7 linked regions of the Homo sapiens genome follow. The protein of the gene in region 2 interacts with the protein of the main gene of each other region in a pairwise test. Each region holds a gene or a part of one and is shown on either strand. Other genes may lie near its edges. The genes, in order: SOX6, ERG, LARS1, HIPK1, ARK2N, WDR13 and MNAT1.

The links.
Region 1: the proteins of ERG (region 2) and SOX6 interact in a two-hybrid assay, tested with the Homo sapiens proteins (one large-scale study listed by BioGRID and IntAct).
Region 3: the proteins of ERG (region 2) and LARS1 interact in a two-hybrid assay, tested with the Homo sapiens proteins (one large-scale study listed by BioGRID and IntAct).
Region 4: the proteins of ERG (region 2) and HIPK1 interact in a two-hybrid assay, tested with the Homo sapiens proteins (one large-scale study listed by BioGRID and IntAct).
Region 5: the proteins of ERG (region 2) and ARK2N interact in a two-hybrid assay, tested with the Homo sapiens proteins (one large-scale study listed by BioGRID and IntAct).
Region 6: the proteins of ERG (region 2) and WDR13 interact in a two-hybrid assay, tested with the Homo sapiens proteins (one large-scale study listed by BioGRID and IntAct).
Region 7: the proteins of ERG (region 2) and MNAT1 interact in a two-hybrid assay, tested with the Homo sapiens proteins (one large-scale study listed by BioGRID and IntAct).

Annotation. Positions count from the first base shown.
Region 1 is NC_000011.10:15,982,470-15,986,494, reverse strand, and holds part of SOX6 (transcription factor SOX-6), read left to right. Parts: intron 1-74; coding exon 75-291; intron 292-4,025. UniProt on the Homo sapiens protein: Transcription factor that plays a key role in several developmental processes, including neurogenesis, chondrocytes differentiation and cartilage formation.
Region 2 is NC_000021.9:38,386,526-38,390,550, forward strand, and holds part of ERG (transcriptional regulator ERG), read right to left. Parts: intron 1-4,025. UniProt on the Homo sapiens protein: Transcriptional regulator. May participate in transcriptional regulation through the recruitment of SETDB1 histone methyltransferase and subsequent modification of local chromatin structure.
Region 3 is NC_000005.10:146,112,086-146,116,727, forward strand, and holds the end of LARS1 (leucine--tRNA ligase, cytoplasmic), read right to left. Parts: intron 2,227-4,642; coding exon 2,021-2,226; 3' UTR 949-2,020; downstream 1-948. UniProt on the Homo sapiens protein: Aminoacyl-tRNA synthetase that catalyzes the specific attachment of leucine to its cognate tRNA (tRNA(Leu)).
Region 4 is NC_000001.11:113,967,114-113,971,138, reverse strand, and holds part of HIPK1 (homeodomain-interacting protein kinase 1), read right to left. Parts: intron 3,374-4,025; coding exon 3,191-3,373; intron 2,698-3,190; coding exon 2,491-2,697; intron 1,184-2,490; coding exon 942-1,183; intron 1-941.
Region 5 is NC_000018.10:46,264,263-46,268,017, forward strand, and holds the end of ARK2N (protein ARK2N), read left to right. Parts: 3' UTR 1-2,730; downstream 2,731-3,755. UniProt on the Homo sapiens protein: AMPK substrate important for exercise capacity and skeletal muscle function.
Region 6 is NC_000023.11:48,595,669-48,600,477, reverse strand, and holds the start of WDR13 (WD repeat-containing protein 13), read right to left. Parts: upstream 2,987-4,809; 5' UTR 2,864-2,986; exon of another isoform or gene 2,521-2,863; 5' UTR 2,482-2,520; coding exon 2,441-2,481; exon of another isoform or gene 1,762-2,440; coding exon 1,521-1,761; intron 1,126-1,520; coding exon 1,016-1,125; intron 892-1,015; coding exon 761-891; intron 160-760; coding exon 1-159.
Region 7 is NC_000014.9:60,961,540-60,965,564, forward strand, and holds part of MNAT1 (CDK-activating kinase assembly factor MAT1), read left to right. Parts: intron 1-4,025.

The sequences.
Region 1 (4,025 bases), on a different chromosome or scaffold from region 2:
GGTATATCTAGTTGTGTTTGCCTAGAATATGTTGCCTTGACCACTTGGGTACTTAAGGCTATTTTTATTTCTAGGATCTCGCTGGAAATCAATGTCCAACCAGGAGAAGCAACCTTATTATGAAGAGCAGGCCCGGCTAAGCAAGATCCACTTAGAGAAGTACCCAAACTATAAATACAAACCCCGACCGAAACGCACCTGCATTGTTGATGGCAAAAAGCTTCGGATTGGGGAGTATAAGCAACTGATGAGGTCTCGGAGACAGGAGATGAGGCAGTTCTTTACTGTGGGGTAAGTATTCCTGAATTTAGCCACCTGGGCTTTACTTTTGCGGTAAGTAACTATAGGATGGCTACTGGCAGTATGTTTGGGAAGGAGATTAGGGAAAGAGGAGGTTGTGGCATACTGAAGGGGCTTGGCCATGAGAATCTTTGCTGTGTCATAGGGGCACTGCCTTGCACCATGGCTTTTGCTCAAATCAAGCCAAACCTGGAACAGTTCACTCCCAGCTGATCACCCCTGTCATTGTCTCCCAAGCCAATTTAAGATGCTCAGTGGCCACACACAGAGTTTCTGGTAGTTTATTTAAGCAGATACACAGGGAGGAAAAATAAAAACTAACCTTAAGAAATCCCCATAAGCTTTCCAGCTTCTCTGGGTGGTGCTTCTGACTCTAATCACAATAGTCTGCTTTTGTTGTGGGATCTACCACAAGATAATTGGCCTCGACATTGGTTAGAGGACCTCATTTTTGGCATAAGATCCAGAACTCCTGTTGCAGTAAATTATTCTGTGGTGGGAGCAGTAACAATGTGTATTTTCTTGCTTAAATCAGAAACTAGACATGCTTTTGATATCTTCAAGTCTGATTTCATGTCATTTTGTTTAAAAATTAGGTAATAGATTTCTGGTATAAATTTCAACTTGGCTGACTGGCTGTCTGCATTCAAAAGAGGCCCCTCATAACCACAGTAGTCAGGATAAGTGGGGATGCAGATGACTGTAGATTCCAGCATACCCAGACCTAGAAGCACAGCAGGGTGGCAAATCCAGAGGGCCATTTGAGGCACAGACCTGAAGCAGCTGGACTCAGAGTAGGGAAACACTTGGGAAAGAGCTTGAGAGAGAGAAGCAGAGTAAGCAAGAGGGAAGTTGCATTTGCTGTGAAGTTGGAGGAGAATTGAGGAGCTGTGCTGTGCCAGGAAACTAAGAGAGCTTCACTTGAAGGTAGAAAAAGAGGTACCTTAAAGGAGAAGCCAAGAGCTATTCACTTTTAAGGGCACTCAAGAGGTAACCCTGTGGAACAAAAAGTTGTTTTCAGAGCATGTGTTTAAAAGGAATAGTAAATAGAGTAAGAAAACAAAGCCAATGAACGTAGTCTGGGTCATGAATCTGTGCAATACACTGCAGTGTTTTCGGGAGGAGCGTGGGCTTTGGAGTTTGACTTCTGGGGTTCACATACTGACTGTGCCACCTACCTGGGCAAGTTATTAAACTTCTCTAACTTTTGTTTTCTCATGTGTAAAATGAAATGAATAGTGGAAACTATCTTGTATGATTGTTGAGAAGATCCAATGAGGCAACGCTTTTAAAAGTACTTTATATAGTGCTTAATACGATATCAATAAAGGTGAACTCTAGCATTATCATTACTATTTAATATGTATTTCCTATCACAGAAAACCATATTTTATATCACACCAGATGATCAGTGAATTTCTTTATACCATGGCAGAACCTTTTAGAGGTAGAGAGAAGCTTAAGCCACTTTATTATAAAAGATCCCAGTATGTTAATAAATGAAGACATGACAAAATAGGATTATCAAATTCCTCTGTATTATAAATGTTTGCATTTTTAAAGGTAATGCGTTTAACGCTAAAAAGGGCAATGTGGTATAATTGGGCTATTCAGCTGATAATTAGAGGATTTATGAAAAATACTAATTCATAGTCCACTTTAAGATTATGTGATAAACATTCTCTTTTAATCCCGTTAGTACACCTCTAAGATTGTGTATAATCTCTTTTGAACAATCCAAAGTTTAAGTTTGGGACCTCTTGTGATTCCTGCCCTCCCTCAGTCATGTTCCCTGTGTATGTAGTGATACATAGTGGGGCTGTTCCGCCAGTCTGGAAGGCTACTAAAGGTGCTGTTTTAATACCTTGGTGTAATACTTATTTGAAAATATGAGTTGCAGTAATACTATTGAATTTAGTTCCCTTTACTAAAGGGTACATTAAAACAGCTCTAGATCAAAATACCACAACATGTACCAATGCATGTAAAAATAAAAAACTAAAACAATTTAATAACATCTATTATTTATTGACTATCTAGTGTATACTAGGATTTTAGATATATAAGTCACATAATTCTCTAAATAAGATAAAGAAGTTGAGTTTTAGAGAGTTTCTATGGCTACAGAAAGGTGATAAAGAGCAAAGGTTCAAATTCAGGTATTGGCCCCCATCATGCCAAATGACTGAGGAACTGTCTTTACTACTTTGTCTCAAAATATGCCTCATAGCCCTATGCTGGCAGTCATGAGTGTGGCTATGCCATCTGAGCAAGAGCTCTTAGCACTTGGAGAAAATGAAGTCTCTGCTTGTGGTATATGGTACATAAAAAGAACTTTGAAATTTAGAGACTAAGTATCCTGTTCTCAATAGTGTAGAACAGTCCTTTATGGAAGGATCATTTTAGACTGCAGAATAGGGCTACTGAAGTGCAGGCAATGATCAGAATGTCTTATTCTTTCATCTCAATGCTGAGCATTTTCCTCTGCCCAGCTTTGATAATACTTGCTATGTAGAGCCAGGTGTTATTTCTGCTTAAGGATTTGTATTCTCTTTTAAGTAGTTGTAGTTGATAGATTATTAATTTCCTGAAGTTTTTCTTTGGAAATTGATCTTTATTACATATGAGGTTATTACAAGAGTTGAGCAAAAAACAAACAAAAATTCAAATATTTCTATTGACGTTTTGATGGAATGGGTTCAGATCAATTTTTATAGCTGATTTTGAAAAGACATGCATAACTTTCAAGCCAATAAAAGTGCATATACTGCTCAACATTTTCATGCATTTTACTGACTACACAACTGTGGCTGATGAGTTAGTTTTTTTTATTACTTAGCTATTATGAAATGAATTTATCAATAATATGGAAGGGAGCAATGTTAGCCCTTGCCTTGGTTTTAACCTCTTCAGTTCGCAGAGTAAGTATCAGAATGTTGTAATAATCTGGATAAGATTATTATCTGGATTATTCAAGATAATAAATGTGTGTGTGTATGTGTGGGTATAACACACTATTATATGCTAATCTATTCATGTATGTATCTGGCTTTGTATATTTGTTTGTATGTATCTGGCTTCTCCAACTACAGAATTCTCTGAAACTCATGTGTACAGAAATAATGCCTCATTTACTATACTAATTTAATAAAGTGTTGGACACATAGCTGGTTTCAAATAGGCCCTTACCAATTCTGAGTGTGGTGTCCAGAATATTCCCTCTACTATTAATGTAGAGGGAATATTCATTAGGGTACATGTAGCTACAATGACGTCTTCCCAAAGAACTGTGACCGAATATACTTCCATTTATTTGAAACTTATTTGGTAATTTACCTATGAACTCATAGAGAATTATGCAGGTACATTCAGCCCTCTGTATCTGTGTGGATTCAACCAATTGTGGATCAAAAATATTTTTTAAAAAAATTCGAGAAAATGTTACATTATTGCTAAAGTACACTATGTAGTTAGGTCTACAGTGGTTGCATCTGTATGGAACATCTACAGACTTTTTTTTTCTTGCGTTTATTTCCTAAACAATTCAGCATAACAAGTGTTTACATAACATTTATATTGTATTAGCTATTATAAATAATGAGATTGTTTAAAGTATATAGGGGATGTGTGTAGGTTATATGCAAATACTATACCACTTTATAAAAGGGACTTGAGCATCCTCAGATTTTGTTATCTGTGGGGGTCCTGGAACCAATCCCCCATGA
Region 2 (4,025 bases):
AAATTTTAAGAGCAATTTTTAAATTCTTATTTTACTTCCAAAACAATAACATTTAATGTGTGACGAGGTGCATTTTAGAATATAGAATAGAGATTTCCAAACAAGAATGCTTAGGGTTTAGGAAAGCCTAAAAGTGGCTTGGGTCACTCATGGGCCAAACCAGGATTTACAAAGAGAAGTTCTTGAAAGACAAGAGCTTTCATTGAGTAGCATCACCACCTCTACCTTAGGACTCACCTTTCTTGGGTAAACCCTTCAGATCTATTTTTTTTTTTTACTCTCTCTTAATAACATCCTTGCGATGTCAGTAAGGAGGAACTAATTTTTTCTTAGGGTAATTACCAAAATAAAACATATTTGGAGGTAAAAAACAGTGGCAAGCAGCATTGTCCACCTACAGAGAACCCTGTGGGTGAAAGGGAGCGGCTGTGGCTTTTAAGAAGACAGAGGCACTCCTTTAATTTTACAGAGGAAAGTAATCTCCTAATATTGTTAAAAGAAAGGGAGAGAAACAGGGTAGCAAAGGGGTACAGACTGAGCAAAAAAGGGGGAAAAAAAAACTAAACGGTTTACAAACCACAGAGCAAAGCAGAGAGCTGCAGAGTGAGTCAGCAGCTGTGTCTGGTGGAAACAGCATCCTGGTGCAAAGCCCTGCAGCCGTCAGCTGATGAACAAGGGCAGTAAATACAGCCGTGAGGGGCCCCACCAGTACCATGTGGCAGTGGTTTGGGGCCACTTTCTCTAGAAGCCAGGGGTGGTGCAGAAGATCCCGTGTGCATGGCCTGGACCCTCTGCAAGGCAGCAGGTGTGTCCAGCAGGTGTGTCCTGAATGGAAGTCTCTGCCCCGAGGCTCAGTGAGGCTCAGGCACCACTTACTGGAGGGGCAGGAAAGCATGGTGGTAGGGAGCACCAACTTTGGAGTTGCCACTGCTTCAGCTGAATCCTGCCTCTGCCCTTTGTGGGACGTTTGGCAACTCTCGCAGCTCTCTCTGCCTCAGTATCGTCATCTGTAAAGTGGGGGTGATGGTAATAGTACTATCTTGCAAGATCATGGTAAGGATGAACTCAGTACTTGAATGGTCTTGTCAGAATTTCTTTGGGCTGAAAATCAGAGTTTAAGGAAAGATAACACTCCTCTCCTATAGCCAGGAAATGCCTAAAGAAAGAGAAATACTGTTCAATTGGCCTATTGAACCATGAAGAAGCTTGAAACGGTGCTATTCTTGGGCTGACTGATATCCTCTGAAAGCTTACTGTGTGCCATGCACCATTCTAAACGCTTTACATGTATTGGTTTATTTAATCCCCACAGGAATCATGTGATTAGTCCATTGGAGAAGTGACGAAATTGGAGCTTAGAGAGGTAGACTGACTTATTTTGCTTAGCGTTGGCAAGGGTTGAAATCCAGACTCTAGGCTGCCATGCTTAATCACTGCGCAAACTTGCTTTCAGGCCTGGTTTATGCACACCTCTGTAGCCTCCTCAGGTCCTTTCCATGTTGTCCCCTCCCTGGGGGACTCCCACTGGAAGACTGCACACTGCCACCTCCTAACAAATGGGAAAACATCCCTAGCCTGGTCTGTCGTTCTGCAAGAGGCAGGATGTATTTTCATGTGCACCATTGAAGAGTATCCAGTTAGCATCAAGGAAGCCTCTGAACATAACCCACCAAAGCTCTTTCATTAGAGGAACCATGTTAGATAGATTCTCAGCTGCTCTGATGGGATGTAAAGGAGCTGTGTTGCTTATAACCGATCCATGATATCAGAATGCAGGGACACACTGTTCTCAGCAGGAAAAGTGATGTCCAAAGTACACATCAAGTGAATATTTGGGATAGAGATGTTGGGATGCTGACATCATCCTGTGCATTCATACTATATGATGCAATCTTTCCACTTAAAATGATGAAAAGGAATTTGTATTGTATGAAGAGCAAAGACAGCAATTTTTAAGTGATGAAAGATTTATTTATCAGAGAATAGAAAAATAGAATCAAACAGGAAGAAGCATTGTCATTAATACAAAGATAAAAGACATTCTGGTTTCAGGGGAAAAGTTCACATGAGCACAACAGACACAAACCTAAAGATAGATGGAGAGAAAGTCAAATTCATCAGAAACTAAATGAAATAAATCTTTATCTTAAAGTCACTTGCCTGCAAATCAAAGATGGGATGTTGCCATTTTCTCCAGGCCCATTAAGAACAGTCTTAATGGTATGAAGCACAGTCCTCCTTCCCCAGGCCTGTGATGAGTTTCCGGTCTCCTTGCTCTGAGCTCAGGTCCCTCTATCTACAAAGGGCATCCCCGGGCTGCTGGGCCCAGGGCATATGCAGTGTTCCCTTGTGAAAGCTGGCACTTTGCTTAGGAGCAAGTGACTCAGGCCCTATTCTACAAACAAGCCAAGCAGTACCTTTGGGCTGTGACAACGTGGTCATGGACATATATGTTTCATTTGGCCAATGTGTGAGTGCAAAGGCCAGTTTGGTCTTCTTTGGTGCAGCTTGACTCTTTCCTCCTCTTCCTTCCTGACCTCAGATTCATCGCCTGCACCTAAGCAGTTATGACCCTGAAAGGAAATCCTTGCTTTCTATTCTCACAGTCCGCATTTTGTAAGACCTCCTCTTCCCTTCATACTTAGTCAGTGGCAGAGTAGGGCAAGAAAACAAAAGTAGACTTTGCAGACAGAGTCAGGTTTCTAACCTGACCTCCCTTATCATTGGCTGTGTGACACAGGAAAAGTTACTTAACTTCTCTGGACTTCTAATTCCTTTTCTGTAGGATGGAGATAGTAACCTCCCAGGGCTGTTATGAGACACAGAAGGGACCACAGACATTCTATGGGGGGCATTCTGCGGGATGGGAGCTGTTTGATTGTTATTTCACATGATTGTATTAACATTCCCAGAGTGTTTCAGCTTCCGTCATTTTCTTTTTTCTAATCTATCCTGAACATTGCTGCCAGATCAGTCTTCCTGAAGCATGACTGATAATAATCATCTCAAAACATAGTCATTATTTTTATTTGAATGGTTATATGGCAGAGTTGCAAATGAAAAGCTGAGCAGAAGGCTGAGAAGAGACCACAGCCTCAGGAGCCTGGGCTACTAGATGAAAGCCAGCATGAGCAAAAAGGGCCTGTGGCTCTGTGTTTGGGACAATGTTGTAACTACCTGTGTCCATCTCTCCACGGACCAAAAGCACCCTGAGCTAAAGGACTATATCTCATTATCCTTGGCATTCATGTATGCAACAAATAATTATTGAGCACCTAGTCTAGGCCCCAGGCTAACTAGTTTTCTTTAGATTTTCAGCTGTGTAAAAAAAATTCATTGAATTCATTAACATTAACCAAAATTTAACTTCAAAAATACAGATGTTCAATAATGATAACATTTCGTGTTTTCAATGTGTAGATTCTCTTGCAGGGATGTACACTGATTAAATCTTAATTATTCCATTTCGAACCTTATTTTGGCCTCAACGTTTAGGAAATACACATTCCATCTTGTGCTTGCAATATGCCTGTAACATCTTGGCATTTGAATTTGCAGTTGGGAATATGCAGCATAGGCTATGAATTTCTGAAGCTGGTGCCAGCACAGCTGGTTCTGATCTGAATACAAACAAATAAAACTATGTGGTTGGCACTGAAACACTAGGACAGGTGACAAACCTTGGCAATGCACTGGTTACAAATGGGCTAATTAAGAATCTGCACTTTCTTCTAGCATCGAAGTTCAGAAACAGACCATCGAAGATGAGCCTGAATTTGAAGTCTTGTGGTTGTATCAAGGCTCTCTTTTAAAAAATACTAGTTATTTTATCTGCTTGTATAATGGGTTGAATTGTGTTCCCTCAATTCCCTATGTTGAAATCTTAACCCGCAGTATCTAAGAATGTGACCTTTTTTGGAGATAAGATCCTAAATGAGGTAATCAAGTTATAGTAAGGTTATGGGGTAGGTATTCCAACCTGACCAATGTCCTTATGCAAAAGAGGCATTTGGACACAGAGACTG
Region 3 (4,642 bases), on a different chromosome or scaffold from region 2:
AATCAAGACTGAAAAAACAAAGGATCCATGAATCTCAACTCACACCTAATCCAAAACAGTACAGGTTCATAAGATGAACACAATCACAATATTATTTTCCTTTCTCTCTCTTTTTTTTTTTCTGGCCAAGCACACATAGTTTAATTTTCCTAAGTTAAACACAAGTAGGTTTGTGTTTAGGCAACAGAAAGTATTACTTAATTTCAGAAATAATTAAGGCTTTGCAGATCAGAGAGGACAGCAAAAGAATCTAGAGGAGTGCAAAGAAAGAATCAGTTGCCCCAAAGGAACCAACACAAAGGACATGATTACAGACTACAGTAATCTGAAGCCAATATACCTTGGTATCCATCATCTTCTTCTTCTTCAATGGTAACATTCACTAAAGACTTACTACTTGCCAGGCACTGTGTTATGATTTTCCTAGATCAGTTCACCTAAACGTCTCACAATAAGCCTACAAGGTACCAGTATTAGTTCCATTTTATAGATGAAGAACTGCAGCTCCGAGTAATTGGCCAAGAGCATCCTAGTAGCAAAAAGAAGAACTGGAAATCTAACCTAGCTAGTCTGATTTCAGAGCATGCGCTCTTACCCCACTATGCTATAGTGCCTGTCCCTAGTAGATAAGTGATTATTTGCACTTGATGATTTCTAATTCTAACATCCTATGATTGGCTTCAATAAATCTGTGATAAACCATATGACTAGGCCTAGTGGTCCCTAACTGCGGAGAGCAAAATAAGGAAGCTCAATAAACTCTATTTACATAACCGCAGTTAGAATTCAGGTTCCTCTGGGTTATCAAAATTGTTCTTTCTCCATATTAAACCCATCAAAATTAGAAATGTTTCTCCTGTTAGTCAATGCCTTACATTTTTTCCTCATATGAAGACAGATGGCGCAGATATTAAAAGACACTCCAACAAGAATAAAAGAATAAATCTGTAATAGTCAGCATGACCTCTATTTTATTGATTGATTGATGGATTGATTGAGACAGAGTTTCACTCTTGTTGCCTAAGCTGGAGTGCAATGGCACGGTTTCAGCTCACTGCAACCTCGGTCTCCCAGGTTCAAGCGATTCTCCTGCCTCACACTCCCAAGCAGCTGGGATTACAGGTACCCGCCACCATGCCAAGCTAATTTTTGTATTTTTAGTAGAGACGGGGTTTCACCATGTTGGTCAGGCTGGTCTCAAACTCCTGACCTCAGGTGACTGCCCACCTTGGCCTCCCAAAGTGCTGGGATTATAGGTGTGAGCCACCACACCCGACCAGCATGACCTTTAAACACAATTGGACTTAAGACAAATTTAGTAAATGCAGATTTCTGGGGGGGAAGGGGGGAATCTTCTTTTAAAATGCCCATATTTAGTGTAGGTGAAATATACTGCTTATAAACTATTGATATTAGCCTTGAAGAAGCCATTATTGGTTCTTAGTTGAATAATTAAAGCTTTAAAAAGTCTTATAAAATGCAGGACCTATTTGTTCTTTATACAAAATACTTAGTAATTGAAGTCAAGTCAAAATATTCTCATTAGTTCTTTTAAATCATCATGAAGTTCTCTTCATTTAAAAAAAAAAGCTGCTAATTTACTACTTTTCTTTTTTAAAAAAAAATACAGCTAACTCCATAAATGAATATACTATAAAAAGCTGTTAGGTACACCTTAGCCTTCATCAAAGTATAAAGTACACCTCATAAAAGAAGCATACTGACACTTTTATGTTCATCTTAAAAACCAGAAACTTCTAGGAAATAGCAACAATTTGTTTTTTAAAAAGAGTTTGGCAAAAACCATTTCTCTTGGACACCCAAAGAAAGGGAAAAAAAATTTATTAGGTCCAGGAATCAAAGATGACTTGATAGAATTATGAATACATGCAGAATTGGATGGTTAGAAATGAAATCAATCTATTTAGGTCCAGCCTAAGGTTCTGATAGCCAATCAGTAGACACAATCAGAGTAGTAGTATTCCTAAGAAACCAGGATAAATCTCCAATGTGCATGAGTTTAATGAACCAGATAGATTATTGTATCGCCAATATCCACCCTTATCCCATTCTCAGTCAGATGAATTTTCTTGCTCATGAGGTCCACATTGAAAACAGCATGCTCAGAAATGGGGGTCTTCTCGGTGTACTCCTTTCCCAGGACAGGAACTCGTCGAGGCCCCAACAGTGGATCATCAAATCTCATCAGTTTCACTTTGGAAAGGTCTACAACAAAATAAATTATCAATATAAGCATTTAATTACAGTCACTCAAACCCTGGAGCAGTCTGAGAACTCACGTTTTAAATACGCTGGTTGTTATATCTAAACAAAAATATTTTCTTCAGATTATTAAATAAAAGCCACGCTGGGTGCGGTGGCTCACACCTGTAATCCCAGCACTTTGGAAGGCTGAGGCGGGTGAATCACTTGAGGACAGGAGTTCGAGACTAGCCTGACCAACATGGCAAAACACCATCTCTACTAAAAACACAAAAAAATTAGCTGGGCCTGGTGATGGGCGCCTGTGATCCCAGCTACTTGGGAGGCTGACACAGGAAAATCGCTTGAACCTGGAAGGCAGAGGTTGCAGTGTGCCAAGATCGCACCATTGCATGCCAGCCTGGGCAACAAAGTGAGACTCTATCTCAAACAAACAAACAAACAAAAAAAGCAGTGGCCGGGCATGGTGGCTCATGCCTTTAATCCCAGCACTTTGGGAGGCTGAGGTGGGCAGATCGCGAGGTCCGGAGATCGAGACCATCCTGACCAACATGGTGAAACCCCATCTCTACTAAAATACAAAAAATTAGCCGGGCATGGTGGTGCATGCCTGTAGTCCCAGCTAGTAGGGAGGCTGAGGCAGTGGAATTGCTTGAACCCAGGAGACAGAGGTTGCGGTGAGCCAAGATCGCGCCACTGCACTCCAGCCTGGCAACAGAGCAAGATTCTGTCGGGGGGAAAAAAAAAAAAAAAAAAAAACAATCCCAGGAGCAAAGCTAAAATGTAGCAAATCTTCATCCCCTTTCAGCTTTTACCCAGCTCAAAGTGTCAGAGATTCTGACATCTCCTGGAATTACAAACTAAGAGAGAGAAAGAATTGTGTGTATTTTTTAGCATTATCCTATATGGTCTCTCAAATCATTTTTATATGCTTCAATTAACCATTGTACAGAATATCGAAAAATCTAAAACTTACCCCTTTCTTGAGCTCCCTGGAATACACTAAACTTGCAAGAATTGTAGCTTTTCTCAGAGATACTTTTGGATAAATAATGACTACTCTAAGAAATGGCATTACCAGTTTCTCATTTGCTCAAAAGATGAAAGTATTTGTATTAACAAGTTGATGAGACAAGGAGAGCGGGGACAAGGCAGAGAAAGGACAGAAATTTAAGCTTTCAGAATTTTTAGCTGTAGGATGAGGTCTAATACCCACCCTGCTTGAGATTTTCCTAATCTGCTCTTATGCAAGCTGAAAAAATAGCGCCTGACCAAAAAAAAAAAAAAAAAAAAAAAAAAAAGCACCTGTCTCTTGAACAACTTTGTAAGTCAACAATCCTGCCAACAACTGAGCCCAAAAGAAGTATATTTATTTCAGCAATTCTGAGACTTCCCAACATCAAATGGTTTTATTTTATATGGCAGAAAAACACCAGAAATGACTACAAATGCTGATTCTGGGTTTATATCTCATTCGAAGTGTAGCATGGCTAGTTATCCTTAACCTGATCCATAGAAATAGAAGATATTTTCTGAATTACTTCCCATTTCTTTCTGAAACACACCTGAGCTACCCTCCCTCATGTTGACTTGAGAGTACAAAGCTTAGTATAAGAGGGATAAGAGATAAAAGAAGACTTTAATGCAGCTGGCGGCCATGCCAACCAAGAATACAAGTTATCCATGCATTCTGTCCTCTTCGGGAAACAAAGACCGAAGTTTAGAGAAGGGGCTTATAGAACAATTACCTGCGACTACCACAAAAGCAAACCCTGTCTAAGAGTCTTTGGAGAGTTTCTGCAGGGACCATACAATCTATTCCCAGACACAGTACGAGCCCTGAAAATTAAAATGGGAAGAGAGCAGGCGCAATCTTCATGACAGCCACGATCTTATTTTGGGGAAGAATACAATTAATTTTAACAGCTATTGCAATTCAACGTACACATCAGTGGTACCAAATATTTTGCTATAGATGCAGTGACAAGTTCTGCCAGCAGATTTTATGCATAAGGCCTTTTACTGCGGATCTGCCTCTGCCTCTTTCTCTCTCATACACACACACTCTTTCTCTCTGTCTAAAACAGACCTCCCTCATCATTCCAAGCAATTCTGAATCAAACTAGTTCAAAGAAACCTTAATACTCAATCAGGCTTCTAAGTGACAAAACATATTTGCTTTGATGTTTCACCATGTAGTTCATTACTGTCCATAGATTCGTAGAGCTTTCTTACTGGTTTAACTGTCTTTTATCCCAGACTTCTCTTATCATTGAAACTGTTGAAATTTAAGCCTGCAACTACATAAGATTTAAGGCTCTTAGAGAAAAGATGAGAGTGATTCTAAGTCCCTAGGGACTGATAACGAGAAATGAAGGCTTTCACTTCCAAGTTGTTAGTTCACATATGGCATGGGTTG
Region 4 (4,025 bases), on a different chromosome or scaffold from region 2:
ACAATACCCTCAAATTACAACCCTGTTTATGTCTATGGCAGTAAGATAATACATAATAAAACATAATTTATACAAGTATGGCCCAGGTTTATGTTGACACCTAAACTTCACCAACCCCTTCCTTGGTATGAAGTTGTCACTGAAAAGCAGCTGCCTTAACAAGACTACATTGCCTGGGCTCACTTGCATCTAGGTGGGGCCATGTGAGAAGCATTCACTATTTCCACTTATTTCCAGCCTAAAGAGGTTAAGACATGTGTGTGCCTCCTTCACACTTTCTTTCTCCTTCTGACTGGATGCTCAGGAATCAAACACTTGTACCAAGAAATTATATGAGAGAGAAGTAAAATTCTACTATGTTATGCTACAAAAATCTAGGATTTGTTACTGCAACTGCTATTACCCAACTAACACAATAACTAAACCAGGGAGCTTAAGTCCAGTATCTAACAGGGCAAAGATGATGGAAGTAATTGGGTTGGTAATAAAACCATCAAAAGCATCACTGCTATGACACTGGGTGAGAAAAAAATCTAAAGAATATAACTGTTTTCCAAAACACTTTTGCAGTCATTTTCAATATTATCAAGTCCTGTCTACATCTCAATTGCCAAATTCAAATCATCTGTGGCAAACCTAATTGCCTGCTAATTCTTCTTGCAATATCACACGTCTTGTCTGCTTTCTCCCATCAGCACTGAATGTGTTTCTGAGACTACAATCTCATTTGTATATTAATCCAAGCAAAATAAACACAGGAAGATAAAGTGATGGCCAAAAATAATTTCACATTGTGCAGGGAACTGATTTCTGAATTAAGGTCTCTTTAAGAATGTCTACACCACTGGTCTCTACCACTGATATAAGTGGATTATGGCAAAATATTTAAGCATTCACACATCAAAGGAGAATTCAACTCAAGCTGTGAAGATAACACTGACCTGAGGCCTGGGTTGCTACAGTGCAGTCACCAAGCTGAGTTTTCAGTGGAGGCACAATGATAGTGCGGGTGCCAGTGCCATCTGCCACAACTCTGCCAGGCCCCTCCAAAACGGATCCACTATTGCCTCGGAGAGCACTCAGGGTATCAGTGGAATAAGGGCTGCTCAAAGAAGAGTCAGAGTCTGGAGAATCATTGACAGTGACATAACTGATGACATTAGACCTTGGCTTCAGTCCAGAGCTGAGGAAAAGAAAAATACATGAAAATTGAATTGTTCTTTTTTGTGTGTGTGACAGCGTCTTGTTCTGTCACCCAGGCTGGAGTGCAGTGGAGTGATCACAGCTCGCTGCGACCTCAACCTCCTGGGCTCAAGCTATCCTCCCATCTTAGCCTCCCGAGTAGCTGGGACTACAGGTGTGTACCACCATGCCCAACTGTTTTTATCTTTTGTAGTGATGAGATGTCACTATGTTTCGCAGGCTGGTCTCAAATTCCTGGGCTCAAGTGATCTTCCTGCTTTGGCCTCCCAAAGTGCTAGGATTGCAGGCATGAGCCACCATGCCGAGCTTCAACCACCCTTTTAAGCAATGTTTCTTAGATGATCTGTCTCTGGTTCTCCCATGATAACAATGATGATAAAGATGGTAATAATAATAGTAATATTAGCAGCAGTAAACTTCTGGGTACTTATGTATCAGGCACTACTCTCATGCTCCACATACATCTCACTGAATCCTTACAACAATCCTATGAAGTAGGTACTATAAACCCCATTTTGCAGATGAGGAAACTAAGGAATAGGGAGATGAGGAACTTGCCCAGGGTCACACAAGAAGTGATGAGTGGTGAAGACAGGATTCAGACCCAGGACAGAATGACTTCAGAGTCCACACCTCTAACACCTCCTGTATGTTGCCTCTACCATCTTACAATTGGTCCTTTTGAACTAACAGGCTCTAAATTCATTCTAAATTTTCTCTTCCAAGTTCACTTAAACTTCATTTCTGCATGACTCTGTAAAGTCTCCTAAGTTACTTTCATGTGTGAATCCTACCTTCTCAGGTAAAAGCAAGAGGTCATTCCCTCTTCCGTATGCCCAACACCAAAAGCCCCATCGAAGGCTATGCTTCCAAAACACCTTTTTCTTCGGCCCTTTTTTTTGGGTGGGGGCGGGAGGGGATGCAGTCTTGCTCTGTCACTCAGGCTGGAGTACAGTGGCACGATCTCAGCTCACTGTAACCTCCGCCTCCTGGGTTCAAGTGATTCTCCTGCCTCAGCCTCCCGAGTAGCTGGGATACAAACATGTGCCACCACGCCCTGCTAATTTTTGTATTTTTAGTAGAGACAGGGTTGTGCCATGTTGGCCAGGCTGGTCTTGAACTCCTCACCTCAGGTGATCTGCTGGCCTCAACCTCCCAAAGTGCTGGGATTACAGGCGTGAGCCACCATGCCCCACCGGTCCTTTCTTTCACAGGCCAAACTGGGCCCACTTGCCTGAGGCCAACAGTCTAAAACCAATAGAGCCAGGAACCATTCACTTATCTTACCTACTGGGCTTGTATTTGTTGTCCTCTTCCTCATCAGTGTCACTTCGGATAGTGATGACACTCACAGGAGGGCTGGGAGTATCTGGAATGATGATGGGCTGATGCTGATCTTGGACAGGGACCAAGGAATTATAAGAAGATGTGGTGCGGAGGGGACTGCTCCCAACCAGAGAATAGACTTGGGAAGGCAGAACATCTAGAGAGGACCTGTAGGAAAAGTTCACATGGAAAGATGATTCAGTCCTTGGCCTTCCAAATTGTGTATCTTTTCCCCAGACTGCTTTCCAATTTACTCATTGATTCCTTTTTACATAATCATTAAGCAAATACATTTAACTATATAAGTTCCAGTGAAAATAAGCACCATGCTGGCAAGAGTTTCCAGGGACAAGAACACCAAAATACAAAAGACATTTTACTTTTATAAGCCCTTTATCCCAGGATTAAATTTCACTCTGTAAAGTAAAATAAAAACATCATAAAATGCCCTAGATTCAAAGTGGCAGCAGAGACAAAGGACCATCATAAAACCAGGACACACCTGGTGTACATGCCCAGATGAAATGATTTGCTCTTCCTCAATTTGGCAGCTACTTGCTGCTTCATATCTATATTATATGTCTATACAATATTCCAAATGCAAGGCAACATATCTCTCAAACTGGCACAGTTTTAACTATCAGCTGTAACACAGACTCACTTGGAAGAGACTGGAGCTGACTGCTTATTCTTCTTCGAAGGGAGGGAACTGGATTGTTGTTGTCTGACAACATGGGCAACACCAACATTCAGAGGCTGAGCAGTGGCCAATGTCACATGGTTAGTCAGCAAGGATGGCTGCTGCATGATAGTGCTGTACTGGTTGCCATGAGAGTGGGCATTCCTGTACCAACAGAAAGAAAGAGAAGAGTGAATTCCAAAACCACTGAAGAATCAGGACCAAACAGACATCAAAAGCAATTAGCCAAAATGCAGCTGCATTTTATTTTTTTAAAGTTGAGCACCTACCATCTGATAAGGGATTAATAACCAGAATACGTAAGCAGCTCAAACAACTCTATGGAAAAAAATCTAATAATACGATCAAAAAATGGGCAAAAGAATTGAATAGACATTTTCCAAAAGATGACTTACAAATGACAAACAGGCATATGAAAAGGTGCTCAACATCTCTGATCATTAGAGAAATGCAGATCAAAACTGCAATGAGATATTATCTCACCCCAGTTAAAATGGCTTATATCCAAAAGACAAGCAATAATAAACACTGCCAAGGATATGGAAAAAAGGGAACAATTGTACACTGTTGGTAGGAATGTAAGTTAGTACAACTATTATGGAGAACAGTTTGGAGGTTCCTGTAAAAACTAAAAATTGAGCTACCATATGATCCAGCAATCCCACTGCTGGGTATATACCCAAAAGAAAGGAAATCAGTATATCAAAGAGATACCTGCACTCCTATGTTGCAGCACTGTTCACAGTAAGATTTGGAAGCAGCCTAAGTGTCCATCAACAGATGAATGGATAAAGAA
Region 5 (3,755 bases), on a different chromosome or scaffold from region 2:
TCAGGAAATGCCAGCATTGGAATTTTGTGGCATTAGTTACTACCTTCTTTCTTATAATATGTTGTAGTTACTAGTGAATTCTTTTAAAAGCAATACCTAGAGTTAGAACACTATGTACTCTGCACAGGGGGAGTGAAGTAATATTGGCTTAGAAGACTTCACCTTTTGTTTTTCATGGTTTTTGTTTGTTTTGTTTTTGTTTTTGTTTCCATTGTTACCGTTGCTATGGCCCTTTGCCTGTCTCTCCAAATCCCCTGGTGGCTCTTCTTATCATTAAGAGTATGAGAATTACCATTTTCAGTTTTCATTCAGCAAACAAATTTACCAAGTGCCTGCTCTGCATAAGGCACTGTGAGGGGTGGGTGCTCTGGGGGCTGCTGAGATGAATGACACACACCGCACATACACATGCATCAGTGTCTGCCTGCCTCCACCTGCCCAGCCTGTTCTTCTTCTTCTTCTTCATCTTCTTCTTTTTTTTTTTTTTTTGTAAAGACAAGTTTATTCCTTTACGCTTCTTGTTGCATTAGTTCTCCTGTATGTTCCTTCTTCCACAGGAATGTATTTGTGCATATGTTCTTTGATCTTCTCTGATAGCATCTCATTTGATCTGGCCTCTGTCCTTCATCAGCTTTTATTTTTTTTATTTTTATTTTCTGCTTTTGTTAGATAAGGCTTTTAAGATCATGAACCTCCAGCTTTAGCAACTCATATATCAGTCTCTCACATGGCCACAATTCTAGACAAAAACCAAAGACCCAGAGGCCAGAGCAAAGTAGGACCTTCTGAAGATTCACTACTGGTGTATCCTTGGACCTTCACATTTTACTTTAGGATTAATTTATTGAATTTTACTGTTACACATAGTTTTTGACTTGAATTAAAATACTAGACAAAGCAGAAATGTACAATTTCTGGTCTGTGTTTTCCAGGAAATTCATAGAGAAGAGAATAGAGTGGATGATGTGACTTGAAGTTTTTGCAGCTTATTTTTTCCCCCACTGTCAGGGCAGAGGCCCATTTTAATGAATGTTTTTGCATGACCTGTTCTTATGTTAACCACATATTTTTTTTCCCAATTCCACACAGCAGGTGATTTCCCGTGTGACATATTTTCTTCATAGTCCCTAATATAGTCATCCTCTACAGAGTTGGCGTGCTGTGTGCACTGTGGATTAGGAACAGAGTGGAGCTGTAACCAGTCTCTTCTCTGGCCCTTTGCCTTTATGTCAGCTTGCACTTTTGCCTCACTTATTCCTAGTCCAGCTCCCAACTGCCTGACTTAATGGACCAGAACGGAGATTTGGATATTAAGATGCAGAGGGGGAGGGGAAGGGATGGTAGAGATAGACAGCTCTCCCCTACTAGGTTGGGTCATTTCCCCTAATAACTATAGAGAGACTGTGTTTCAACTCTCTTTTCATTGCTGTTTCCAGAAGAGTGGAGAGTGTGGTTTCAGGCAAGGTATTAATGATACAATTCCGTGGTATACAGCTCCTGTGACATTTGAAGTTTCTTTTAAAGGGGTTTTTCTTAATCAAAGTTTTACATTTGGTAGCATAAGTAGTTCTTTATGCTTCACAGGACATTGTCTTCAGAGTAATCTCTCTGCTAAAATGGTACATGTGGGTCACAGATTGGTTTATGCCACTGACTTGGTTAAGTTTCCACCCCCTCCAATTTGTGAAAAACAGAGCAGTGACCTAGCTGTTGCATCATCATGACTGCCATGTAACCTGTAATTGCTGCTCTCCAGTAATTGTCTTTTCATTTTGATGGTAGGGGCCAGACTGAATGAATAATGCATTCTTTTTTATTCAATTTATTTCATTCAGTTTATTCTTGGCAATCAAACATCCCATAAACTTTGCTTTTATTATCAATTATGAATATGAATTGTCTGGTTTACTAATGTAGTCATTTGTTCATCTTTACTTTTAGCAGATTAGCACCATAACTAACTTAAAACTAAGTTTGTTACCTGCTTTTTATACTGTCACAAAGGTTTTTGAAAAAGCTGGGGACACTATTTTGTCTTTTAGTTTTAAACTTTTTTAAGGCAAAGCAAGCTCCCCAATCCCTGTTCTCCAATATGTGTATGATGTGACTTCCATGTAGATATAAAAATGATTGTGCCCTAACCAAACTTCCTCAGATTGTGCACTGTTTGTTTAAAATAATCACGTATTTTAGTCTGATGCTGTTGTATTTTTTCATTTTATTTAAAACACTACTTACTTCTTATTCTCTTAACAAATTTTAAAAGGTAGTGATCTTAAAAAAAAATCACTGGATAACTAGGAAATATTTTTGTTGTTGTTTTGTTTCTTAAAGAGTACAGAGGCCATTGAAGCCTTTTGCTCCTCTTACCGTGAAAATGAAATGTTAGCCATTGTATGGCTAGGAACCAATGCACTTGGCAGTTAATGGATCTGCTGTTGCTGGAGTGTGAGCGTGGACTTGATGCAGTGATGACAAATCATTGCTTAGAATTAATGTTTTCAAATGTGCAACTCTAGTTTTTAAAACAAAATTTGGTTCTTTACATTCATTATTTCGTTTTTGTTTCCCTTTAGTATTTAATGGTCTTTGGAGAAAAAATAATAAAACAGAGTGTTATATATATATTTTTTGGTGCAAGATAAGATTTTCTGTTTTTTGAAATAAGTCTGTAGCATAAAGGTTAAACTATTTTAAGACAAAATAAAATAGAGTGTATTTAAACAATGATATCTTCTGAGGTTTTTTTTTTTTTTTCTTTGTCCCTATCTGCTTCAGTTAATTAGGTGGTACCTGGAGCAATTTCCAAGTTACCTTTTAAATGTGAAAGTGGATTCTATTTTGTTAACAAGTCTTATCTTTATAAGATGTCTGAGTTTTCAAAGCAAGAGCTGTATCCTTGCAAGGTTACTTGCAAAACTACTCCCAAGAAGTTTTGCAAGTAACCTTGGATAATTGTTGGATGTTGATAAAAATAGCTTTGCATTAGCTTTCCTGTAACCCCACCTGAGATTTCAAAGAGGGCCAAAGACTTATTGTTCTGGGCACCTTTACTCCTGGCAACAAAACTTCACTGCTGGTTATTACTTTGCAGAGATCAGAGAGTCAAGGTAAGATGCTGCAACGGCATGCACTTTGCATGTGGTTAAACATTGAAGCAGGTATAGGGTGTTTGAAAAATAGACTGAATAATTTTTTCCATAGTTTGGTTCTATTTTCAGATTTTTAATTTGGTTATTAAAATGATAGGAACTACCATATTAACACCTCATGATGTTTGTAACTTATCTTCACATAAAGGGGAATGAGGAACCAGGGAGAGTGAAACCTCTTTTTATTAAAACATTCAACTCCTGAATCTCTTAGTTTTCCTCAAGAATTTTTGGTTCTGCTTGTACTGGAAAATGATCTGTTAACAATTAGGAAACACAATATTAACTAGTAGGAAATATCTTCAGATTTTTGAAATTGTTCTTTTATACCACCCTGTATCTGAGACGTAGACATATTAATACCTATAAGAAATCTTTGGCTGGGTGCAGCGGCTCATACGCCTGTAATCCCAGCACTTTGGGAGGCCGAGGTGGGCGGATCATCTGAGGTCAGGAGTTCGACACCAGCCTGGCCAACATGGCGAAACCCCGCCTCTACTAAAAATACAAAAATTAGCTGGGTGTGGTGGCGTGTGCCTGTAATCCCAGCTACTCAGGAGGCTGAAGCAGGAGAATCGCTTAAACCCAGGAGGCAGAGGTTGC
Region 6 (4,809 bases), on a different chromosome or scaffold from region 2:
AGAGGGACCAGGCGAAGTCGGAGACACCACGGGTGTGGCCCCGTAGCACGCGAAGCACTGTGGGTGGGGCAGGCACCAGCTGGCACAGGGAGATGCTGCCGTCGAGTGAGCAGCAGGCCAGGCGGTGTCGGTCATCATTGGCGAAGCGCACCCTTGGGACTGCAATGCCAAGAAGCCATTAGTGGGAATCTGCACACTCACTGGGCACTTTTCTCTCTAAAAGGCTCTGACGTGTGTGCCTGGGGCTGGGGCCCCACTGCATGAGGAACAGTGGCCTCAGCAAAGGGCTTTCCTTGGCTGACAAAGGGAACTGTAACCCCTGAAGACCCTCTGCCAAAGCTCCCTAAGTCTTAGCAGCTCCTTTGCAGATTGCAAAAGTCTTCTGCAACATGAAAAAGTTCCTGTCTTAGCGAACACTTTATAATCAAGGTCTTGGCAATTTGCAAAACCCTTGACACTGTAGCCCACTCTGCCCTCTGCAAGGGGATTTATCATCAGCAAAGGCTTTGAACTCTTCCAAGTGACTCAGGAACCCAGGCAGCCTGCTGCAAAGGGCTCTCTCTTAGGCTTCTGAGGCCCTTTCCAGTAGACGAAGCACTGACCACTTTGCAGAGGGATTTTCAGTCTACAAAAGGCTTTATGGATGGTCATTCCTCCTTTGGAGTGTGCCAGGGGCCTTGGATTCAGAAAAGGATGCCTTGGTTGGTTGTCACAGTTTGGGCAAACGCTTGGTGATGGAACCCGCTACCCACTGGCTCACCTGCCTCATCCACGTGCTGGTCAAAAACATGATACATGCCCGCAAAGGCATAGTTCTCGCTCAGTGACGTGTCCCCGGCCATGGCCCGACTTGCCTCTGCTGCTGACGTGGGCACCACGCTGCCAGGGGGCCTGGGCCCCAATAGGAAGTGAGGGGTGACAGGAGGTAGATGCGAGAGTGTTCAGTCTGCCATTGCCCCAGGGCCCCTCTCCTCCTCGCAACCCGCCCCCCGCCTTGGCTGCCTCTGGTGCATACCTGTCCTCATAGACGGCACGGTTCATCTGCGCCTGCAGCTGGTAGGAGCCTCTGCTGACAGAACGACGGTGCCCACGGGCCCCCAGGGCCCGAGGATCATCCTCAAAGTCCTGCAAATGGAGAGGGTCAGGGTGGGTGCATCTTGCAAAAAGCCCGAGAACCTTTGAGGTGTGGAGCCCTGAAAATCTACCTAGAGTCAGATCACTTCTCACTGTGTCCCCTGCCACCACCACCGCTGCCCACTTGTACTACTGCAGTGGCTTCCTCACGAGTTCTGCTGTTCCTGCCCTCCCCCTGCTCAGCAGATACTAAAGACAGGGCTTGCTATATGTTTACTGACCTGTTTACAAAGTTTGTGTGTTTACTGGTTTACTTGGCATATTATCTTTTTGTCCTCTGCTGATGCAGAACAGTGCCCAGCAAAGAGCAGGTGCTTGATGAAAGTCAGTGGAGTGAATGTGTGCAGGCAGGGTATGCCCGGGGGTGAATGTGGCCAGAAGCTCACCTCCATGCGGTCAAGAGTAGTGCGGCTACTGCGGACGATGCTGTTGCTATAGGCACGAGCACTGCCTGGCTCGGAGAGGGGCCCGTAGCGCTGGCCCAGCAGCTGCCCCCGAAGCCTCAGGTACTGCCGACGCAGCGCTGGGGGGTGCCCAGCCTTGGCATTCTCCCGCAGCAGCTGGCTGCGCCGGCGGATATACTGCGTCCGAAACTGTGGAAACGTTGGTGTGCGGTACGCGTTGTACCTGCAGGGTCAGGATGCAGGGCAGGCAGCAGGCACAGGACAGAGGGAATCAATCAGCTCGGGGGGGGGGGTACGGCAGGAGAGTGAGGTGTGTGGCAGTGACTGGGGCCTAGGTGGTAAGAATGACTAGCAGTGGTGATGAGGGACCTCTTGGTCCTGTGGTGGGAGTGAGTCTGCAGTAATAATGAGCATGGTCATGAGGTCAGTTTGCAGACAACAGAGTCAGTCTGCTGCCGTGCTGGGGTCCCTACGGGGTGACTGGGTCAGCGCAGACAATAATTAGGGTCAGTATACCAGGGCGACAGAAATCAGACTGACATTATGGGGGTCAGCGTTGGGAGGTGATGGGGTCAGAATGGGGAAGTGATGATGTAAAAAAAAAAAAGTCTAGGGGACACCCATAGGGGATAGGATGTCACCTGCCTGAGCCCCACCTCCCTCTCACAGGTAGCCGCTTTGCGCATGCCCACATCTGACCACATTTTCCCAGCTTGCTGTTTAGAATCCTCTCCGGCGCAGCCAACTCACCGCGGGCGTGCCCGCCCCCGCTACTGCGCATGCTCACCTCCGGCATGCCCACGCAGCCGCATAAGGCAAGTTCTCCGCCCAGCCTCACTTATCGCCATTGCGCATGCACCACAGTAAGTTCTGCTCCCATGGGCTTTGACCCCACGCCTCACCTCGCGTCCACTGCTAAGACTTGCTGCCACACCGCGGCCATTCCCCGGCCTCCTCCTCTGGCGTGTCCGCCCGCGGCAGCCTGCAGGACAAGGGCCTGGAATGTGAGCGTCCCGAGCGAAGGGATCTAGTTCCGTCCCTTCCACCAGGCGACCATTGCCATAGACATCGAGTCCCTCCGCGCCGGAGATGTCACGAACTCCCCCCCGGGTGTTACCATGGTCATCACCCCAGCCCTGCCCTTCCTGGGCAGCGCCCGGGTGACACACAGCGATTCAGAACAGACACCGCCCCTCCCCAGTCGCCATAGCAACGCCCCTCCCCCGCCTAGCATTCCTTGCTTGACATTCTCCACCCATCTTGTCCCCGCCGCCCTCCGCCTTCCCTTCTCAGATCCAAGAGCATAGCCCGGGATCGGGGACCACCTCCGGGGCTGCCTCCGGTTCTTGAGGCCCCCCGGAGCGGCCCTGAGACCACTGTCGCCGGTTCCTTCTGTCTCTCCTCCCTTTCTCAGGCTCCAGGCAAGATGGCTGCCTGCTATCAGAAAGAACTGCCGAGCCCAGAGCGAATCGATAGGCATCCTTCCCAGGGCGTGGGAGTCTCGCAGGCGCATTGAGGGACATTGGCTTCAAGCCCAAGGACGGAGGCTCCACCCCTTGACTTCTACCCACTCGTTAATTGCACTTTTTGTGTATACAAGGATAATGTCCAAGGGACATAGCGTCAGGGGTGAGTTTGCTAATCATTCCCTAGAAATCAGAAGTACAACATTATAAAAAAGAGAAGAAACACGACTTTTAAAAAGTGGTGTAGGGCCGGGCGCGGTGGCTCACGCCTGTAATCCCAGCACTTAGGGAGGCCGAGGCAGGTGGATCACTTGAGGCCAGGAGTTCAAGACCAGCCTGGCCAACATGGTGAAACCCCGTCTCTACTAAAAATACAAAAATTAGCCGGGTATGGTGGCGGGCGCTTGTAGTCCCAGCTACTCGGGAGGTTGTGGCAGGAGGATTGCTTGAGCCCAGGACGCGGAGGTTGTAGTGAGCTGAGATCGCGCCACTGCACTCTAGCCTGGGCGACGGGAGTGAAACCCTGTCTCAAAAACAAAAACAAAAAAAGTGGTGTAGGCCACTTTTTAGCAGCACAATCTTGTCCAAGCAAAACTTGAATAATAGAATAAAAAATCATCATATATGCAAAGACGCCTTGAAAGTTCACCAGTTCTTGCAGTGGGCCTCTGCACACCCCTGGGATGAGTAAGGTCGGTTGTGTGTGTGTGACTGGGATGGTTGGACTTGGATGCCCCCAGACAGCTTGAGGCTTGAGTTTCTTTCTTTTTTTTTTTTTTTTTTCTTTTTGAGACGGGAGTCTCGCTCTGTCGCCCAGGCTGGAGTCCAGTGGCGCGATCTCGGCTCATTGCAAGCTCCGCCTCCTGGGTTCACGCCATTCTCCTGCCTCAGCCTCCCAAGTAGCTGGGACTACAGGCGTCCGACACCACGCCTGGCTAAATTTTTGTGTTTTTAGTAGAGAGGGGGTTTCACCGTGTTAACCAAGATGGTCTCAATCTCCTGACCTCATGATCCGCCCGCCTCGGCCTCCCAAAGTGCTGGGATTACAGGCGTGAGCCACCGAGCCCAGTCGAGGCTTGAGTTTCTAAAGACAGAAGATAGAATTAGGCAAAAGAAGCTTTGGGGTTTGGATCCAAAGAGGCTATCTGAATCATCTCTATTTCAACTTCCAGCAGGAAGCTGCTTTCAAACTGTTCATCTTAACGTTATCAGGGTAAACTTCCTGTTGGATCTTAACATCAACTGACATAAAATTCAAAGCTGTTATTTTCCACATTATTTTTATAACAAATACAATCAATTCAACAATGTTTTAAAGTCACCGAAAGATCACACTGTATTGTGTTGACTCAGCATCTCCCTTGTCCCTGTAACAAGCTTATCAGTGTCTTTTCATATTAAATACTCTTTTGTAACATGATTGATAAAGAGTAAACTCTATTTCACTGCACAAACATGTAACCTTAACAAGAACAACTAATATTTATGAGACAATGTGCTGGGTACTGTTCAAGGTATTTTATACATATATTAATCTATTTAATCTTTTTTTTTTTTTTGAGATGGGGTTTCACTCTGTCACCCAGGCTGGAGTGCAGTGACACGATCTTGGCTCACTGCAATCTCTGCCACCTGGGCTCAAGCAGTCCTCCTACCTCAGCCTCCCGGGAGCTGGGACCACAGACATTTGCCACCACGCCCGGATAATTTTTCTATTTTTGGTAGAGACGGGGTTTCACCATGTTGGCCAGGCTGGTCTCAAACTCCTGAGCTCAAGTGATTCGCCCGCCTCGGCCTCCCTAAGT
Region 7 (4,025 bases), on a different chromosome or scaffold from region 2:
TTAGGGAAACCTGTTCTGATCTTATTCATGTTGGCTTCTCTTTTTATCCACATTCATCAAGCCCTACTTTCTCATTTGTAATATTCATTATTTAATATGTTTCTTTTCTGCTGGATTATACGGTCAATGAGATCACGAAGGCTTTGTTCTCTGTCTTATTATCAGGGCTACTTCAATACCTGGCAAATAGTAGGCTCTCAGTAATTTTTTTTTTGAGAATGAATGAGCTGCATGTATCTAAATTTCTGCATTTTTGTCCCCTCACTCTTGGAGATAAATTACTCATCCTGCCTTTATAAAGATATGATGAAAATTCTGGCACATAGCTGTTACTAACATGGAATTTCTAGTAAAAAATTACATTAGACAAACCAGAATCAGGCACTAGGTTTTTTAAGGAATATTACCAAAGAAATTCAGAAGCTAGTACATTTATTTTTATAATATCTACTGAATTTCCAAGAAGTGACACTTGTTCCTCATTGGGATACACAAAATCTAGGCTCATATTACTTGCTATTTTTAGATTTTTTAATGAAACTTTGCCTTACTCTGTCTCTTCCAGTCATTATTCTGAATAAATTAATAGAAATGAGTATCATAATGTTTTAAGAATCAAAAAATAAAAACAATATTTATGCCATTTTTCTGTGTAATGTCATCTAAGCATATAATGGCAATACTGAAATTAGACAAACATTGTATTAATCTCTTGTGGAAATAAACATCTGACTTGGAAGAATATACTTAAAATTTATCAAATATCTTTTGGCCTATTAGCTACTGTTTATTATCTGTTTTTCATGGCTCTATCTATCTCATAGCCCATGTTCCTGAGATGTTCCTGTGTTTAAATGTATGTAGTATATAGACAGAATCTATCCTTAGAGGTCTATCCTTTGAGATAATCAGCACTACCAACAACATTGTTCATAGAATATATTATACTTAAGTAGCTATATCTTCTGTGTGTTCTATAGTTCACACTTAAATCAAGGAAGTAATCCTTTCATTATGTAATTATATTAACTGTCAGTAATAACTGTTCTATCCAAAATACCTGGTGTGCTCTTTGATAGCAATAAATTACACAGTTATAGTATAACTGGACTTATACTCCAGTTATAAGGCAGAAAGTCTTCTCCGAGCAATCTATATTCAGTTATTAAATATGAGTAATAATAAAGCATTGTGTTCATTTGGAAACCATGTGTCTTTTAATTTCCAAATATGAGTTTTGGTGTTTGATTGGTCTAAATGTCTGGCATAACTATTCACTCTCTTTCCAAGTGTATTGATGTAAATCTGAATTCAGTTTTATTATTAGTTTATTCAAATTGTATTCTCACTAGCTGGCTAGATGGTAAAGTGTAAGAGTAACATATGACTGCCTGTGGAAGTTTGTTACATTTTTGTTTGGACTTCATGAAGCCATATGTTTTTTGTTTTTTGTTTTTTTTAAGATGGAGTCTCGCTCTGTCGCCCAGGCTGGAGTGCAGTGGCGTGATCTTGGCTCGCTGCGACCTCCACCTCCCGGGTTCAAGCGATTCTCCTGCCTCAGCCTCCTGAGTAGCTGGGATTACAGGTGCGTGCCACCACGCCCGGCTAATTTTTGTATTTTTAGTAGATTCGGGTTTTCACCATGTTGGTCAGGCTGGTCTGGAACTCCTGACCTCGTGATCTGCCCACCTCGCCCTCCCAAAGTGCTGGGATTACAGGCATGAGCCACCACACCCAGCCGGCCATGTATTTTTATAACCAAGCTGCCCTCAGAATTATGAATAGTATTTCTGACATGTAGTGTCTTTTCTCATTTATCTTAGAATATATGGTTACCACTCTATAAACAGTTTGTCTATTATTCTGGTACTGTGCTTAGTTTAAGACACCTAACCATTAACTAGTTTTCAGAATGGTTTTGCTTTTTAGTGATAGTTGTGTGAGCGCACTGTTGCTCTGGTTGTTTTTAAATCTCACTGAGGTAGGCTTCAGGTTGTTAATGTAAATCTTTATAGCTTTGGCTGAACTTCCTACAAGAGCTGTGGGTCTTGATAGCTGAGATCAGCTGGCTGATCTCTCTTAATGGCAGTTAGATTTGAATTTTGTGGGCTAGGACACAGATCTGTTTGGAAATGGTCTGTTTAATGCATGATGGCTTTAAATGAAGACTAAAAAAACGGGCCACCTTGTAAAAAGAAAGTCTTAGTCTCTAGAGTTCACTACCTTTCTTAGTTTGAACCAATCCAAGTTTTTAACTCTCCATAGGGCCCGGTAATTTGAGGTGGAGGAAACTAATATGAACTTTACATTTCATTTCAATATTAATTCCAAGCCAGTGTGCTTTAAGGATTGTCACAAACATATTATGACTGGACAGGAAGAGTGCTTGCCTCTTGGTCTTGAGTGACAAGCCCTGCCCTCTGCCCCTAGCTGAGAACTCAAAGCATTGTTAAGTAGCACTAAAACGAGCTGAGTCCAAGACTTCAGCCAGATGGTCAATATAGTGCTTTTAAAGGAAGGGAAATAGGAAAAGAGTAATCTCAGAAGCACTCCTATGTTAAAGAACTAAGAAACTGAAGTCTTTCTGAAGCTAAGTGTAAATTATTCCACTTTCTTTGGGAGCAAAAGCTGCAAAATATAACACAAGAAAATGACAGTGTAGGAAACCAAAGTTCAGGAACAAACCTTCAAGTGTGGTTTTCTAATGCTTAATCGTATCTTACGCCCTTCTCAGGATCCATTGCTCCTTTTCCCTCCCTCTTCTCCAAGGTCTGTTTGAAAGGGATTTTGATGGGATAGGAAGGCAGCTTTAGACAGAGCATAAATTAGGGCATAAGATGTCCTTTGTACAAGAATTATCTTAGACATGCTTTCAAAAACATACTTTTTTTGACCTTATTAAGAAAATAATCAAAGGTATGATTTTTTAAGTCTTTGAGTTTAGTCTGCTTTCAGTAAAAATAAGGTATAGGTACCAAAATAAGCAAACCTCGTTTTTACTTTCCTGGTTTCTGCTTATACGATTTACACATATTTAAAATAAACCCATGAAAAACAGGAATAGTGTCATGGGATTGGCTAAATAGTCAGAGCAATTACCTCCAGGCTCCCAAACCCAACTGAGCTTGACTTTTGGAAGTAAATTTGGCTAAGACTTCTTCCTCATTCTGTTTTATAAAGGTATACATGAAATGATACTGACTTCTGCCAGAAACCCCAGGAATCCTGTTCAGTGATGTACTTGTAATGGTCATGAAAGAATAAAAACACAGATGTGGATTAAGGTAGAAAAGTACAGAAAACACTAAATTTTCATTGTGCTGTTTCAATGTGGCAGATTCTTTAAAATACTTCGACATGCTACAATAATTAAAGGTTTTAAGAACATTAAGATACTTAAAAAATAAAAGCCCACAATTGAATAACAAAAATGAACTTTGTTTTATTTTTTATTGGCATTAATGTAGGTTGCCGTGGTGAAAATAGTTTGAAATACTTCACAGTAACAGTTTTGTGCAGCCCTAGAGATCAAAAACAGCAAAGTAAATAAGCAGGACTCTCAACGACTCATACTCACAGACATGTTTAATGTAAATGATTGCTAGAAGGGAAGGGCATTTTCTTCAGTGCTATGCAAAGAAATTTTAATTGACTTGGTTTTGGCAGTGAGAATTGTACAACTTAGCATTAATAAGTCAAATTTAAAAATTTGCTCATTACTCTGGATTATGACTATGTTCAAGAAATACTATTTTCAAGCACTAATCATTTAGATAAAACTTTTTTTACACATTTATGGCATCAAGGAGTATGACTGTTTATAACATTTTACCTATAAAGCTGAACTGTTTTATATACTCTTTATGGAAACATGGCCATAAATTAAAAGATGCAACTGTTTTGAATATTTTACTGGTGGTCCTCTGTTTTCCTGCCAGCAGTGCAGCTGTTTCAGGTTTCTCAGGATAACATATAAAAAGCTGTATGCACACTGCAAGTTTATGCTCAAATTGCCAAGCCAGATA